4 linked regions of the Homo sapiens genome follow. The protein of the gene in region 2 purifies or fractionates together with the protein of the main gene of each other region. This does not show direct contact. Each region holds a gene or a part of one and is shown on either strand. Other genes may lie near its edges.

Region 1 (3,500 bases), on a different chromosome or scaffold from region 2:
GTAACAATCAAATTGTTTTGGTAGAACTCTTTCATGCACATTATCTTATTAAAGCCTCCTGCTCTGAGGTAGAAAATAGTACTAGCTCCATTTCACAGTTAAGCAAGTGAGCCCACAGAATTAAGCAACTAACTCCAGGGCACTTGGCAAGCACATGGGAGAGTCCAAACCAGTAGCCACATGTTCTGATTTCTAATCCATTGTTTCTTCCACATTACGTGATGTAAGTAGCTGAGCTATGCCCCTGTACTTTGCTGTTAACTTTCTTAAAATGGGTAACATTCATAAACAAATTAAATACCTGCTTCTCAGGAACTGCTCCAACCAGAAGTTCCTTTTCCTCTCCCTCTACCTTGTATGTCTTCATAATCGAGCTAAACTTTATAAAGTGTGTATATATGCAAATTATATATTGTATACACACATACATATCTTTGTTATGCTGAATTTAGCTTTTCTCCCTTTTTTCTTTTCCTCGCTCCTTATTCTTAAAGCAAATAAGCACAACTTTTTTCTTTTAAAATTTCCCCTGAAAATCCACAAAGCTAAATTAAATTGCATTCACCTCTGTAGCCTTTCAGTAATTTTCTTCCAGTTAGTCTATGTCTCTCAATATCATTTTTAAGAGATTTCTTTCTGGTATAGCAGTTTGATCAAAGACATACAGTACAAATTTCCCTTTAATGTCAAACAACTTAAGATCTTCCACTGTGGAGTGTCCCAAAGTTACCTGCTAGTTTCTCGGCCAAGCAGCCTAGGACTGCAGATGTGTTCCTGTGTTTGGCAGGATGGCTTGAGTCCTGGCAAGCTACTTCTCCATTTAAATTGAGAATTTCAGTCAATTTCTGGAGTGCATCCTAAAACAAAAAAGTACAAGTGGGTTTGACCCATATACTACACAGGTTGTTTTCCCAGGCTCATTTTTTTTTTGAGACAAAAGCTATAACCAGCACTTTGGGAGGCCGAGGCGGGCGGACCACAAGGTCAAGAGTTCGACACCAGCCTGGCCAACATGGTGAAACCCCATCTCTACTAAGAATACAAAAATTAGCCAGGTGTGGTGGTGCGCGCCTGTAATCCCAGCTACTCAGGAGGCTTAGGCAGGAGAATCACTTGAACCTGGGAGGTAGAGGTTGCAGTGAGCCGAGATCGTGCCACTGCACTCCAGCCTGGACGACAGAGCAAGGCTCCGTCTCAGGGGGGTGGGGGGAGCTATAACCAGGTGTTAAATAAACTCAGAATGACCATATAAAAATTATGCAATGTACCCTAATGATATCATTGATGGGAAATATCTGATCAACCTGAAAGTCTCCTTACATGACTTACTAGATTCCACTTCATTCAGAATGCTTAAGTTGTATCAAATATATGCTACATATTCTTGAATCACTAAACAGATTAAACCCACTCAGATGCCATTATGAAAACATTAAAGGCTGGTGATGTTGAAGTAAAAAGTTACTTTAAAAAAAGTTTTACTAAGCAAAAACAAATCCCAGCAGAGTTTTCTTCTTTTCTTTTTGCTCTTGCTCTGTTTCCCAGGCTGCTGTGCAGTGAAGTGATCATGGCTCACTGTAGCCTTTACCTCCTGGGCTCAAGTGATCCTCCCACTTCAGCCTCCCTCGTAGCTGGGACTACCGGCACATGTCACAGTGCCCAGATAATTTTAATTTTCTGTAGAGATGGGAATCTCATTATGTTGCCCAGGCTGGTCTTGAACTCCTGGCCTTAAGTGATCCTCCTGCTTCAGCCCCCAAAAGTTTTGGGATTATAGGCATGAACCACTGCACCCTGCCCCAACAGAGTTGAAGGCAAATTGAAACAGGCAGCTCTTATAAGCCTAGGCAAAGGTCAATTCATTGGTGACTACGCTAAAGACTTTCCCCTTCCGTCCACAATGTTTTTCTGCACTGGGCTTAAACAGATGAATGAAAATGCCAGAATTGAGGCTGGGCACAGTGGCTCATGCCTGTAATCCCAGCACTTTGGGAGGCCAAGGTGGGAGGATGCTTGAGCCCAGGAGTTTGAGACCAGTCTGGGCAACATAGCAAGACTCCATCTTAAAAATGAAAGATGCCAGAATCCAAAAGAAGAAAAAAAGAAAAAAAAAAAGGACTCTGTAAAACACATGGGAAAGCAATGAAAGTTCGATGCTTTTGTTCTATGTAAAGGATAACCAATGTTACACTAATCATTAATACATTTGAGTAAGATTCAAAAGTGCTTTCAGTTTTAACTTTTTTTTGTTGTTGTTGTTGAGATGGAGTCTCACTCTGTCGCCCAGGCTGAAGTGCAGTGGTGCAATCTCAGCTCACTGCAGCCTCCACCTTCCGAGTTCAAGTGATTCTCCTGCCTCAGCCTCCTAAGTAGCTGGGATTACAGGTGCACGCCATCGTGCTGGCTAATTTTTGTATTTTTAGTAGAGATGAGGTTTCACCATGTTGGCCAGGCTGGTCTTGAACTCCTGACCTCAAGTGATCTGTCTGCCTTGGCCTCCCAAAGTGTTGGGATTACAGGCATGAGCCACCGTGCCTGGCTTTCTTTTTTTTTTTTTTTTTTAACAGAGACAAGGTCTCACTATGTTGTTCAGGCTGGTATCAAACTCCTGAGCTTAACTGATCCTCCTGCCTTGGTCTCCCAAAGTGCAGGGATCACAGGCATGAGCCAGTACATTCAGCCCAGTTTTTCCTCTTAATAAAAAACATTCTTAAAACTTTTGTTATGAGGAAATTGCTTAGAGAAAGATAAGAAAATCAGCGAAGCAACTCAACATTCTCTTCTAGCTTCTGAATAAAGATCGCCACCTGAGATACAAATACTTCTTTTTTTAACCAGGCTGGAGTGCAATAACGCCATCTTGTCTCACTGCAATCTCGACCTCCAGATTGCAAGTGATCCTCCCACCTCAGCCTCCTGAGCAGCTGGGACTATAGGCATGCACCACGTTACCCTGTTAACTTTTGGATTTTTTTGTAGAAACAGGGTTTCACCATGTTGCCAGGCTGGTCTTGAACTCCTGGACTCAAACAATCTGCCTGCTTTGGCCTCCCAAAGTGTTGAGATTACAAGTGTGAGCCACTGCGCCCAACCTAAATGCTTCTTTTTTTTTTTTTGAGACAGAGTTTCGCTTTGTCGCCCAGGCTGGAGTGCAGTAGCACAATCTCAGCTCACTGCAACCATTGCCTCCCAGGTTCAAACAATTCTCGTGCCTCAGCCTCCTGAGTACTGGGATTACAGGTGCCTGCCACCACTCCCGGCTGATTTTTAGTAGAGACGGGGTATTTTAGTAGAGACGGGGTTTCACCATGCTGTTCAGGCTGGTCTCGAACTCCTGACCTCAGGTGATCCACCCACCTCAGCCTCCCAAAGTGCTAGGATTACAGGCGTGAACCACCGCGCCCAGCCTTAAATGCTTCTATTTTTAACATTTAAAAAATTTTAACCTAGGCTGGGCACAGTGGCTTACACGTATAATCCCAACACTTTGAGAAGCCAAG
Region 2 (3,595 bases):
GTTTGTTTCATCAAATTTGTAAATTTCACTATTTCAGTGAAGGGTTGCAATACCACCAGAGTATACCCCAAACAGTCTCCAAGCTAATTGTGTCAAATATCCCCAAAACACCATGTGTTTGTTTATTGTTTTATGTTTATGCTTTATTCCAACAGATGTTTCAGAGGTAGAAGGAGAAATTTATTCTACCATCCTTAGAAAGATCCCCAGAGTAGAAGAATATACTATTTGCAGTTGAAAAATCTGATTGGCTTATATGACTCATATGAGGTCAAATAGATAGCAGTTTATTGGTGGTAGGGTCACAACTAAAGGCCCAATATCCCAACTTTTATATTTTCTCTTACACCTTTTCTTTTCCCAGATACTTTATTTAAGGATGTTCCGCTGCACATGAGTTACATAGGAAAATAGGTTACTGTTGATGGGTATGAGGCTTCACAAATTTTATTGGATAGAAAAATAGCACTAATTTGCGCTTACAAAGATATTATCAACTCACTAGATTGGCTAACAAGACTGAAAGAAGCAAGTGTTGGTGAGAATGTGGAGCAACCGGAACCCTCATACACGGATGGTGAGAGTTTACCTGAGTACGTCTGTTTTGGAAAGCTGGTTGCCATCTACTAAGGTTGAATATATATGCCTCAGTAGATTTCGACTCCGAAATTTCACTTTTAGGTGAAATGGCCTCGAGAAATGAATATGTATATGTTCACCAGAATAAGTTCTAGAAAGTTCATAGCAGCACTTTGTAATCACCCAAACTTGGAAACTACTTAAGTGCCCATCAACAGAAGAATAACACATTTTGGTACATTCACGTAATGAAATACTAACAATGAGAATAAATGATCTACAACTACAGAACAACATGGATGAATCTCTAAATTTGAGAGTGAAGAAGTGACACACAAAGAGTAAATCATGTATGATCCTACATTCATAATATACAAAAACAGGCCAAAGTCAATCTATTAAGAGTCAAAATACTGCTTGCCTTTGGTAGGGGTTTGTTAATGAGTGGAATGGAACACAAGGCACGCACTGCTTTTTGATATGAGTGCTAGTTTCACTTACGTGTTCAATTTCTGAAATTTCAATGAGATGTATAATTAGGATAATTTTATTATGTATATTTCAATAAAAGTTTCTTTTATGTCTGGGCGCGGTGGCTCACTCCTGTAATCCCAGCACTTTGGGAGGCCGAGGCGGGCGGATCACGAGGTCAGGAGATCAAGACCATCCTGGCTAACATGGTGAAACCCCATCTCTACTAAAAATACAAAAAATTAGCCAGGCATGGTGGCCGGTGCCTGTAGTCCCAGCTACTTGGGAGGCTGAGGCAGGAGAATGGCGTGAACCTGGGAGGTGCAGCTTGTAGTGAGCTGAGATTAAGCCACTGAACTCCAGCCTGGGAAACAGAGCGAGACTCCGTCTCAAAAAAAAAAAAAAAGTTTATTTTATGAGACTAAATAGTTTAGGAGTGGAAAAAGGAAATGTGTGATCACCAAATAGAAAATATGCCTAAGTATTCTCCTCATACAAATACAATCCCTGGGGACTCTATATTTAACCTAAATTGCTAATAACATTTTAGAGAATGAGGAAAAAAGATGTTTCAGAATCTCTTCAGGATGAAAGACTTCTGGTTTTGTTTACCCGCTTTTCCATTACTACTTTTAATGAATGAAGTTTGTTGCATTTATTCCTCTGAAGTTTCAAAACCAAACCACCAGATATGTACTGGGCACCATATATGTATAAGAAATTATGCTAGGCAGCATGAAGAGATATAAAACTGAGTAGCATGGCTCTTCCCCAAAGCAGGGATTTTAACCTATGGTCATGAGGTGTCTGCAGACACGTTCTGGGAAGACCTTAAATGTTCAGAGATCCTTGGCAAAATTTTGTGTGTACTTGATTTCATCAGAGTCCCCAAAGAAGTCCTAGTCTTCCTCAGTCCTCAACCACCACAACAACAAACGAAGAGCCACTCCCAAAAGTTATGCAATCTAGTTGGGAAATGTAGTTGACAAGGCAATTTTACAATCACTGTACAGCAAATAGCTATAACTAAATGGATAACCTTAGCCTAGTTCTTGTGTAAGATTGCTATGTGGAACTCCAGCAGAAATGTTGTGGGATTTAGTGGGTGGCATTTTTCCTGGTACTGGCTTAACATTCTTGTAAGGCCTTCCTTCAAGATGTTAGTATAAATTATGATACGGGAAATGTTACTTTTATAGTTAAAAATATACCAAACTAATGATTCGTCACCTTTCAAGTTCCCACACCATTTTGTTTTCAAGACAGCTGTTAATACATGATCCATTTTTGAATATCATTGTCCATTCATAAATAGCACCTGAGAAAAGCTGAATTTAAAAGGTTCCTAAACCAGTGGTAGCTATAATTGACTATGCGGGAAAGATGCATCCTAATTGGTATGTTTCCTTAGGCAAGAGTATCAGTTATAAACATGGTAGCACAATTTCCAAGACATGTAGATGATTCTTAGCCCAGGACTACACTAATCTGTAAAACTATATGGGAAGATATTTATATACCTATGAATTTTATTACTACCCAAAAAGACGTATGATTTTTTTTTGTTGTTTTTGTTTTTTTTTTCTGTGACAGAGTCTTGCTCTGTTGCGCAGACTGGAGTGCAGTGACAGGATCTTGGCTCACTGCAACCTCCACCTTCCGGGTTCAAGTGATTCTCATGTCTCAGCTTCCCGAGTGACAGGAATTACAGGTGTATGCCACCACACCTGGCTAATTTTTGTATGTTTAGTAGAGACAGGGTTTCACCATGTTGGCTAGGCTGGTCTCAAACTCCTGACCTCAAGTGATCTGGCCGCCTTGGCCTCTCAGAGTGTTGGAATTACAGGCATGAGCCACCACAACAAGCCTGAAATTTTTTTAAAAAGAATAACCCTACTTTGTGGGTTATGAAAGGCTGATGAATCACAATAATATTGTAGAGGAGATATACGGGTTTTTACATATTACCCTCTTGGTAAATTAAATTGTAAAGTTCAGTCCTTAAAACAAGTCTTGCACTGAGTTTAGGATTACTATTCACTTGTCTTCTAACATCATGTTCTATCCACCTAAATAGAAGTAATGCTATCTGTTACTTTTTATCAGATTTTATACTACTTCTGTTGCTTTTTATCAGATTTTATACTACTTCTACTTAAAAGGGAGAGATTTTTGGTTTTGAGCACCATTTGTAAGTAATTTCAACCCCAAACTGCAATAGTGTTTTAAACAGGTCATGTTAGTGGATCCTAATTTAAATAAAATTCTGCTTATCCAAAATAGGATATTATGGGCAGTTAGTAAAGTGACAATGGCTATTTGCTGAGTCCAGAATGCAATAGACTAGTTTCCTATTTGTTTCTTGTGCTGTCTGCTTTATTACGAAAAGATTGCAAAATTCCTTACCTCTTCTTCCTCCTCCTCTTCTGAACTGTCATCTCCATTTTCTTCGGATGAGTCACTACTGCCCTAAAAATATATACACATGTATGTATACTCTTATCTGTGTACAAATATATTCAACAGCAATTTAAATTTCCTGCTA
Region 3 (3,595 bases), on a different chromosome or scaffold from region 2:
CTGCTCCAAACAAGCACCAAGAAAAAAAGTGCAAAGACACAGTGGTATGTCTCTTAGTTCAATTTTTGTTTCCTGGAATTAGCAAATTAAAGGGCTAAATGACAACAACAAAAAATTCAAAGGTGTATATTCCCAGGACCTATATAAATAGTAAATAGAATTAAAATGGCTAATATCAGAAGCAATAATTCTTGAAAGAATTATGGACAGGCAGTACATTTTGGGCAATCTTAAACATAAAACTACGGACTGGCAAAATAATTAGGAGGTTGAATGTTTTTAAATTAAAAGTTCAGGACAGCATTCCTTGAAATCACAGGAACCCATATCCACTAAGAACATGACTCAGTTTGCCAAAAATTATTTCATATATACTTTTCATTGGGATATTTTGCAATGCAGATTGCATTTATGTAATTTATATATAGACATTTTTCAATGAATTGAAGAGAAAAGATAGCAAAAGGAGAAGGAGAAGAGAAAGCCAAAAGGAGAAGTCAGCTGAAATACCAGACTTGCTCCCGCCAGCTATGCCCACAGGAAGGTGAGTGGGCCCTTTTGACCAGACAAATGAACAAAAAGACAGCATATAAATAACCAGGTTCATTAGGTCAGCGGTAGCTACAGTCTAAGTTTGTATGTTGGAAAGAATTCAGCAAATAGATATAATAGATTCAGCATGAGCAGTACCTGAAATGTACCTTAAATACTTTCCCATCTTAAAACTCATCATTATTGGTACATTTCATGCTCTAAATGATAAATTCTGCCTGTCCTACTTCCCTTTTAGGCTTTAGGGAAATAAATATTTTATTGGATGTTCATATAATGGTTTCAGACAGAAAATGGTAGGAGTTACTACTGTAAGCAGTTGCTACTGTAAGCAGATATCTGTAACTACTACCCAAAAAACATTATCGAATGTTCAATGTTCCATATTCCAGCTGGACCCAAGAATACAGTATCCTAAGCAAAATGAACCAGAGTGTACTTACCAAGCATCATACTCAAAGAGAATATATCAGTTTTATTTAGACTTTTTGTATCACTGAACACTCCAAGGAATACATAGAGAATTGACTTTCAAATATTCGGATTCCTATGCAGTTTTTCCATAGGGCAAACTCTTAACATTCTCTCCATATTCTCAAAGCCTCAATGAGCTACACACCTTACCTACAGGACGAGACCTCGAACAACATGGATTCTAAGGAAAATGTCCAATTATTGAGTAAAAAATAATTGAGGAACTGAGTAATAAGATTCCAGACAAGTAAAAAGGAAGTCAGTCTGCATCTTGGCCTGTGACCCTCTCTTGACAAAATTCACAGACCACTAACTATGATAAGGCCTCAAGCAGAAAGAGTGAGGACAGCCTATTTTAATTTGAAGGGTAAGGTAAAGGTACCAGCGCTTAGATCTGGTTTGATGGCCTCTGACAGAAGAGATTTAAAAGTCTGGATATCCAGTAACGTCACTTAGTGTCTGACCCCATGTTCAGATCTGTAATCCTTAACAGGCTAATTCCAAACAGGCCCCTGACAAGACCTCTAATTCTATTTAAATATACAAATCTATACCATCATTCCACAGCTTACCACCTTTTTAATTAAAAAGAGGAAAATAAAACCAAACAATAAATATGAAATGAGTTCACTGTCTGGTTATAAACACATGTGGAATATTTTATATTCTCATCTTTTGTCAGCTATTATCCTGTTAATGTATAACACAATAAATAGTGGAAGAAACTTTCTTAATAAAAGCATCACTACTTAGCCTGTCATTCTCTAGTAACTTCCTCAGCTTAACAGAATCATTGTGTGGGAGGCAGTGAGGGAAGATATCCTGTGTGAACTCAGTGAAGAAAGACCTCTCAGAATGGAGTACTCTACAGAGATAATTACAGCTTTGGGAAAATGTGCTCAGAATAAAGCCAAAGGGCTGGAATTCATCAGATTAAGAGAAAGTGGAAAGCAACTTAGTGATACACAACCTTATGTATTATGGCGATTCAATTTTATTTGCTTTTTTCCCATCTCCAAAACAAATACCAAACAAGATTTTAAGTGAGAAAAGGTAGAAAAGGTAAGATGAAGACATAGGTAAGCTAGCACACAAATGTAGGCCAGAAGGTTTATATGCTTGTTGGAGGTGGGCCACAAATCTTGCACTGAGATTTCAAGAAACCAAAAGTTAAATGGTAAAACTCCTAGGTACTATTTATAATGTCCAGAAGACACAAACAAGTTCAAAAGAACTATGTCTGTTATTGAAACATAAGGTCTCTCACCCTGTCTCTGTCTCTTTCTCTTTCTCATTTTCTCATGGCATAATATCTTGGGGAGCAGACACCGTGAAATGTATTGCAGAATATCCTCATCTGCTTCCCTGTAACAGCTCCCACAGCAAGATTTTTTATTATTTTACTTTTTGAGACAGGGTCACACTCTGTTGGCCAGGCTGGAATGCAGTGGTGTAATCACAGCTCATTGCAGCCCTGACCTCCTGGGTTCAAGTGATCCTCCCACCTCAGCCTACCAAGTAGCTGGGACTACAGGTGTGCACCACCATGAACAGCTAATTAAAAACAAAACAAAACAAAACAAAAAAACTGTAGAGATGAGGTCTCTTCCCTATGTTGCCCAGGCTGGTCTCCAAATCGTGGACTCAAGCAATCCCCCTGTCTCGGCCTCCCAAAGTGTTGGGATTACAGGTGTGAGCCACTGAACCTCACCTCAAAACAAGTTTTATGAGAATTTTTTTTTTTTTGAGATGAAGTCTTGCTCTGTCGCCCAGCTGGAGTGCAGTGGCGCAATCTCAACCTCCACCTCCCGGGTCAAGCGATTCTCCTGCCTCAGCCTCCTGAGTAGCTGGGACTACAGGTGCATGCCACCATGCCTGGCTAATTTTTTTTATTTTTAGGGAAGACGGGGTTTCACCATGTTGGCCAGGATGGTCTTGATCTCCTGACCTCTTGATCTACCCACCTCCACCTCCCAAAAAAGTGCTGGGATCACAGGTGTGAGCCACCACGCCCAGCCGAGACAATATTTTTACAGCCTCCTTCATTATAGTTTAGTGACATGAGGCCTAAAACAGTTTAATTCAAAAAGAATCCCACAAAGAACCAAAATTATTTAATAGTCTTCATCTTCAGTGAAATGAAACACCACCACCACCATATATGTATGCATATGTACATATATATGTATATCATATTTTAAGATATTAAATTAAAAGCATAAGTAAACATCCCAGCACTTTGGGAGGCTGAGGTGGGTTGATCACGAGGTCAGGAGATCGAGACCATCCTGGCTAACACAGTGAAACCCCGTCTCTACTAAAAAATACAAAAAATTAGCTGGGCGTGGTGGCGGGTGCCTGTAGTCCCAGCTACTTGGGAAGCTGAGGCAGGAGAATGGCGTGAACCTGGGAGGCGGTGCTTGCAGTGAGCTGAGATCGCGCCACTGCACTCCAGACTGGGAGAAACAGCGAGACTCTGTCTCAAAAAAAAAAAGTAAGTAAACATCCAGAAAGAAACTAGCAGTATAGGAAAATAGTGGAATAAACTTTTTGAAAGTCCTATCTATCA
Region 4 (3,595 bases), on a different chromosome or scaffold from region 2:
CTCCACCTCCTGGGTTCACGCCACTCTCCTGCCTCAGCCTCCCGAGTAGCTGGGACTACAGGCGCCCACCATCACGCCCGGCTAATTTTTTTGTATTTTTAGTAGAGACGGGGTTTCACCGTGTTAGCCAGGATGGTCTCGATCTCCTGACCTTGTGATCTGCCCGCCTCAGCCTCCCAAAGTGCTGGGATTACAGGCGTGAGCCACCGTGCCTGGCCACAAGACTAATTTCAAAATAGCAAACATTTATTGAGCATTGATTCTTTGTGCTGATACTGTTCTAAGTACCTTATATTTATTACTTAATCCTCATGACAAACCTATAAGACAGATACTAATATTATCCTTATTTTTCAAAGGAAACACTGAAGTACAGAAAGATTAAGCAATTGCCTGACACATGATCTTAGGGAGGCAGGACCAGCACTCTAACCCAGGCAGCCTGGCTCCAGAGCTTGCCTTTTTTCTTTTACTTTTTTTTTTTTTTTTTTTTTTGAGACAGGGTGTCACTCCACCCAGGCTGGAGTGCAGTGGCACAACTATGGCTCACTACAGCCCTGACCTCCGAGGCTCAAATGATCCTCCCACCTCAGCCTCCTGAGTACCTGGGGCTACAGACGTGCACTACCATGTGTAATAATTTTTTTTTTTTTTGTAGTAACAGGGTCTCACTATATTGCCTAGGCTGGGCTTTAACTCCTGGGCTCAAGTAGTCTGCCCACCACGGCCTCCCAAAGTGTTGGGATTACAGGAGTGAGCCACCTTGCCTGTCCCAGAGCCTGCCTCTCTTAACTGCTGCACTAGACTACCTTCTTATTTTAAAAGTTAGCCTGCATTTCTCTTACCTGCATTTTAAATTTTATTGAGTAGTTATTTTATGAGCAGTCTTTGAAAAATTTTCATAAAGCGGGCTCCCCCTGAAATTTTATAACCCACATTCCAGATTTACCAGCTGTGAATGTCTTGCCACACCTACTTGATCTCTCGCTATGCGCGTACACAGTTTCCTTCTTCGAAACAATCCAGAAGTAGGCTAGCAATGGTCACCCCTACATACTTCCGCACACATCTTTCAAGAACAGGACACCATTACCACACCCAAGAAAACCAGCATTTAATGAATTTATTCAGGAGTATCATCCAACATACTCAAATTTCCACAGCTGTTCCGAAAGTATCCTTCAATTCTGGATCCATTGATGGTTCACAGGTTGTATTTGGCTGTTACATCTTTTTAGTTGTTATCCTTCAGAGTAAAACTGGCCTGCCCCTCTTTCTTTCTTTACAATATTGACTCCTTTGAGGAACCGGGGCTGGATGTGGAGCATTCTCCATTCATCTGATTGTTTCCATGTGACCAGATTCGGGTCACAAATTTCTGGCAAGAACCCTTCACAGATGACCATGTATTGGTTATTAGGTAACAATAGATTACTCAAGTAGAGAACTGGGAAATTGTCCTTTGTCCATCACAATAGATTTTTTTTGAAATCTAGATTCCTCATGATTCATTGATTTCTTTTCTTTTTCTTTTTTCTTTTTTTTTTTTTTTTGAGAAAGTTTCACTCGGTTCCCCCGGCTGGAGTGCAATGGCACAATCTCGGTTCACTGCAGCCTTCACCTCCTGGGTTCAAGTGATTCTCCTGTCTCAGCCTCCTGAGTAGCTGGGATTATAGGTGCCTGCCACCATGCCCCGCTGATTTTTTTATTTTTAGTAGAGATGGGGTTTTACCATGTTGGCCAGGCTGGTCTTGAACTCTTGACCTCAGGTGATCCGCCTGCCTCCCAAAGTGCTGGGACTACAGGCGTGAGCCACCATGCATGGCCATTGATTTCTTAATTATAAAGATACATTAGATAATTCATTGCTCTTTATCATTCACTTTCGGTTTAAGCACAGTAAGTGGATCTGAAAATAATTTCAGTATATATAAATTATATATCATTATCACATAAAGTTGATGAAATAGTATATAGAATGTTTGTATGCTCTAAGACTAACTTTTAGATTTTCTTTTTATTCTCTCAATGGTGTGCAAAGTATAAATCAAAGCCATTCTGTGAAAAACTGCTTTCCTGGGTGAAAAGCAGTGGCTGTGCCAGAGTCATTGTTCTTTCAAGCAGTCATTCATATCAGCGTAATGATCTGCAGCTTCGTAGGTATGTTTCTGCCTCTGGAAAGTTATTTTTGGTATGGTTTATACTATGATAATTTCTCTATTAAAAAGTTAAACTTTAAAAGCCACGTAGATCCTTACCTCTTCTTACTGGAGTTTAGAAAGAGGGGGGTAAGAGAAGGTCAGGAGATGGGAGGGAGTACAGTTAGGCAGATCTTTTCAGTTCCTGTGAGCTTAGTAGAGTTGGGGCATGGGGAAGACATCGTGTAGAGAGAGAGAGTTTGGGAACCATGTTTTTAGTGTTTCCCGTCACATACATGGCAACATCACAGAGCTCAGCTAATTGAAGAGAATAAGCAGAAAAGGTACTCAAGATTTATAAAGTTGCTAACTTTTGAAAGGTTAATATTTTCAGTTATTTCCATATGTTACCTTGAAAGATTAATATTTTCAGTTATTTCCATATATGCTACCATTTTTTAAAAAACATTTACTTTTTGTAGAGACAGGGTCTAGCTATGTTGCCCAGGCTGGTCTCGAATTCCCAGGCTCAAGCAGTCTGCCTGCCTCAGCCTCCCAAAGTATTGGGATTGCATGTGTGAGCCCCCCGCACCTGGCCACATGCAACCATTCGTATTTGCAGAAATCCACTTGCCTAAAGGGTAGCTCCCTGGCATGTCAGAGTGAGTTCTTAAATGTAAGACAGAGTATCCCAGAAATAGAACTATAAGCTATCATTACCACATAAAGTTGATAACATATCATATAGAATACTCTTATACTCTAAGATGTAGCTTTTATTTATTTATTTTTGAGACGGAGTCTTGCCCTGTCACCCAGGCTGGAGTGCAGTGGCATGGTCTCAGCTCACTGCAACCTCCACCTCCTGGATTCAAGCGATTCTCCTGCCTCAGCCTCCTGAGTAGCTGGGATTACAGGTACCTGCCGCCACGCCAGACTAATTTTTGTAATTTTAGTGGAGGCTGGGCTTCACTGTGTTGGCCAGGCTGGTCTCAAATTTCTGACCTCAGGTAATTCGCCTGCTGGGTCTCCCAAAATGCTGGGATTACAGGCATGAGTCACTGTGCCCGTCCCCAGGATGTAGCTTTTTTTTTTTTTCCTCTTTTTTTTTTTGAGACGGAGTCTTTCTCAGTTGCCCAGTTCTCAGTTGCCCAGGCTGGAGTGCAGTGGCGCAATCTCGAGTCACTGCAACCTCTGCCTCCTGGGTTCAAGCGGTTCTCCTGCCTCAGCCTCCCGAGTACTTGGGACTACAGGCGCATGCCACCACACCCGGCTAATTTTTTGTGTTTTTAGTAGAGACAGGATATTGGCCAGGCTGGTCTCGAACTCCTGACCTCAGGTGATTTGCCTGCCTGGGCCTCCCAAAGTGCTGGGATTACAGGCATGAGCCACCACGCCCGGCCCCAAGATGTAGCATTTAGATCATTTATTTTTTATTTTTTATTCTTTTGGGGATG

The links.
Region 1: the proteins of IBSP (region 2) and RSPRY1 purify together in Homo sapiens (affinity purification with mass spectrometry; one large-scale study listed by BioGRID and IntAct). This does not show direct contact.
Region 3: the proteins of IBSP (region 2) and PLXDC2 purify together in Homo sapiens (affinity purification with mass spectrometry; one large-scale study listed by BioGRID and IntAct). This does not show direct contact.
Region 4: the proteins of IBSP (region 2) and PSMG2 purify together in Homo sapiens (affinity purification with mass spectrometry; one large-scale study listed by BioGRID and IntAct). This does not show direct contact.

Annotation. Positions count from the first base shown.
Region 1 is NC_000016.10:57,210,329-57,213,828, reverse strand, and holds part of RSPRY1 (RING finger and SPRY domain-containing protein 1 isoform 1 precursor), read right to left. Parts: intron 858-3,500; coding exon 731-857; intron 1-730.
Region 2 is NC_000004.12:87,806,046-87,809,640, reverse strand, and holds part of IBSP (integrin-binding sialoprotein precursor), read right to left. Parts: intron 3,520-3,595; coding exon 3,457-3,519; intron 1-3,456. UniProt on the Homo sapiens protein: Binds tightly to hydroxyapatite. Appears to form an integral part of the mineralized matrix. Probably important to cell-matrix interaction. Promotes adhesion and migration of various cells via the alpha-V/beta-3 integrin receptor (ITGAV:ITGB3).
Region 3 is NC_000010.11:19,822,848-19,826,442, reverse strand, and holds part of PLXDC2 (plexin domain-containing protein 2 isoform 1 precursor), read right to left. Parts: intron 1-3,595. UniProt on the Homo sapiens protein: May play a role in tumor angiogenesis.
Region 4 is NC_000018.10:12,716,476-12,720,070, forward strand, and holds part of PSMG2 (proteasome assembly chaperone 2), read left to right. Parts: intron 1-2,041; coding exon 2,042-2,160; intron 2,161-3,595. UniProt on the Homo sapiens protein: Chaperone protein which promotes assembly of the 20S proteasome as part of a heterodimer with PSMG1.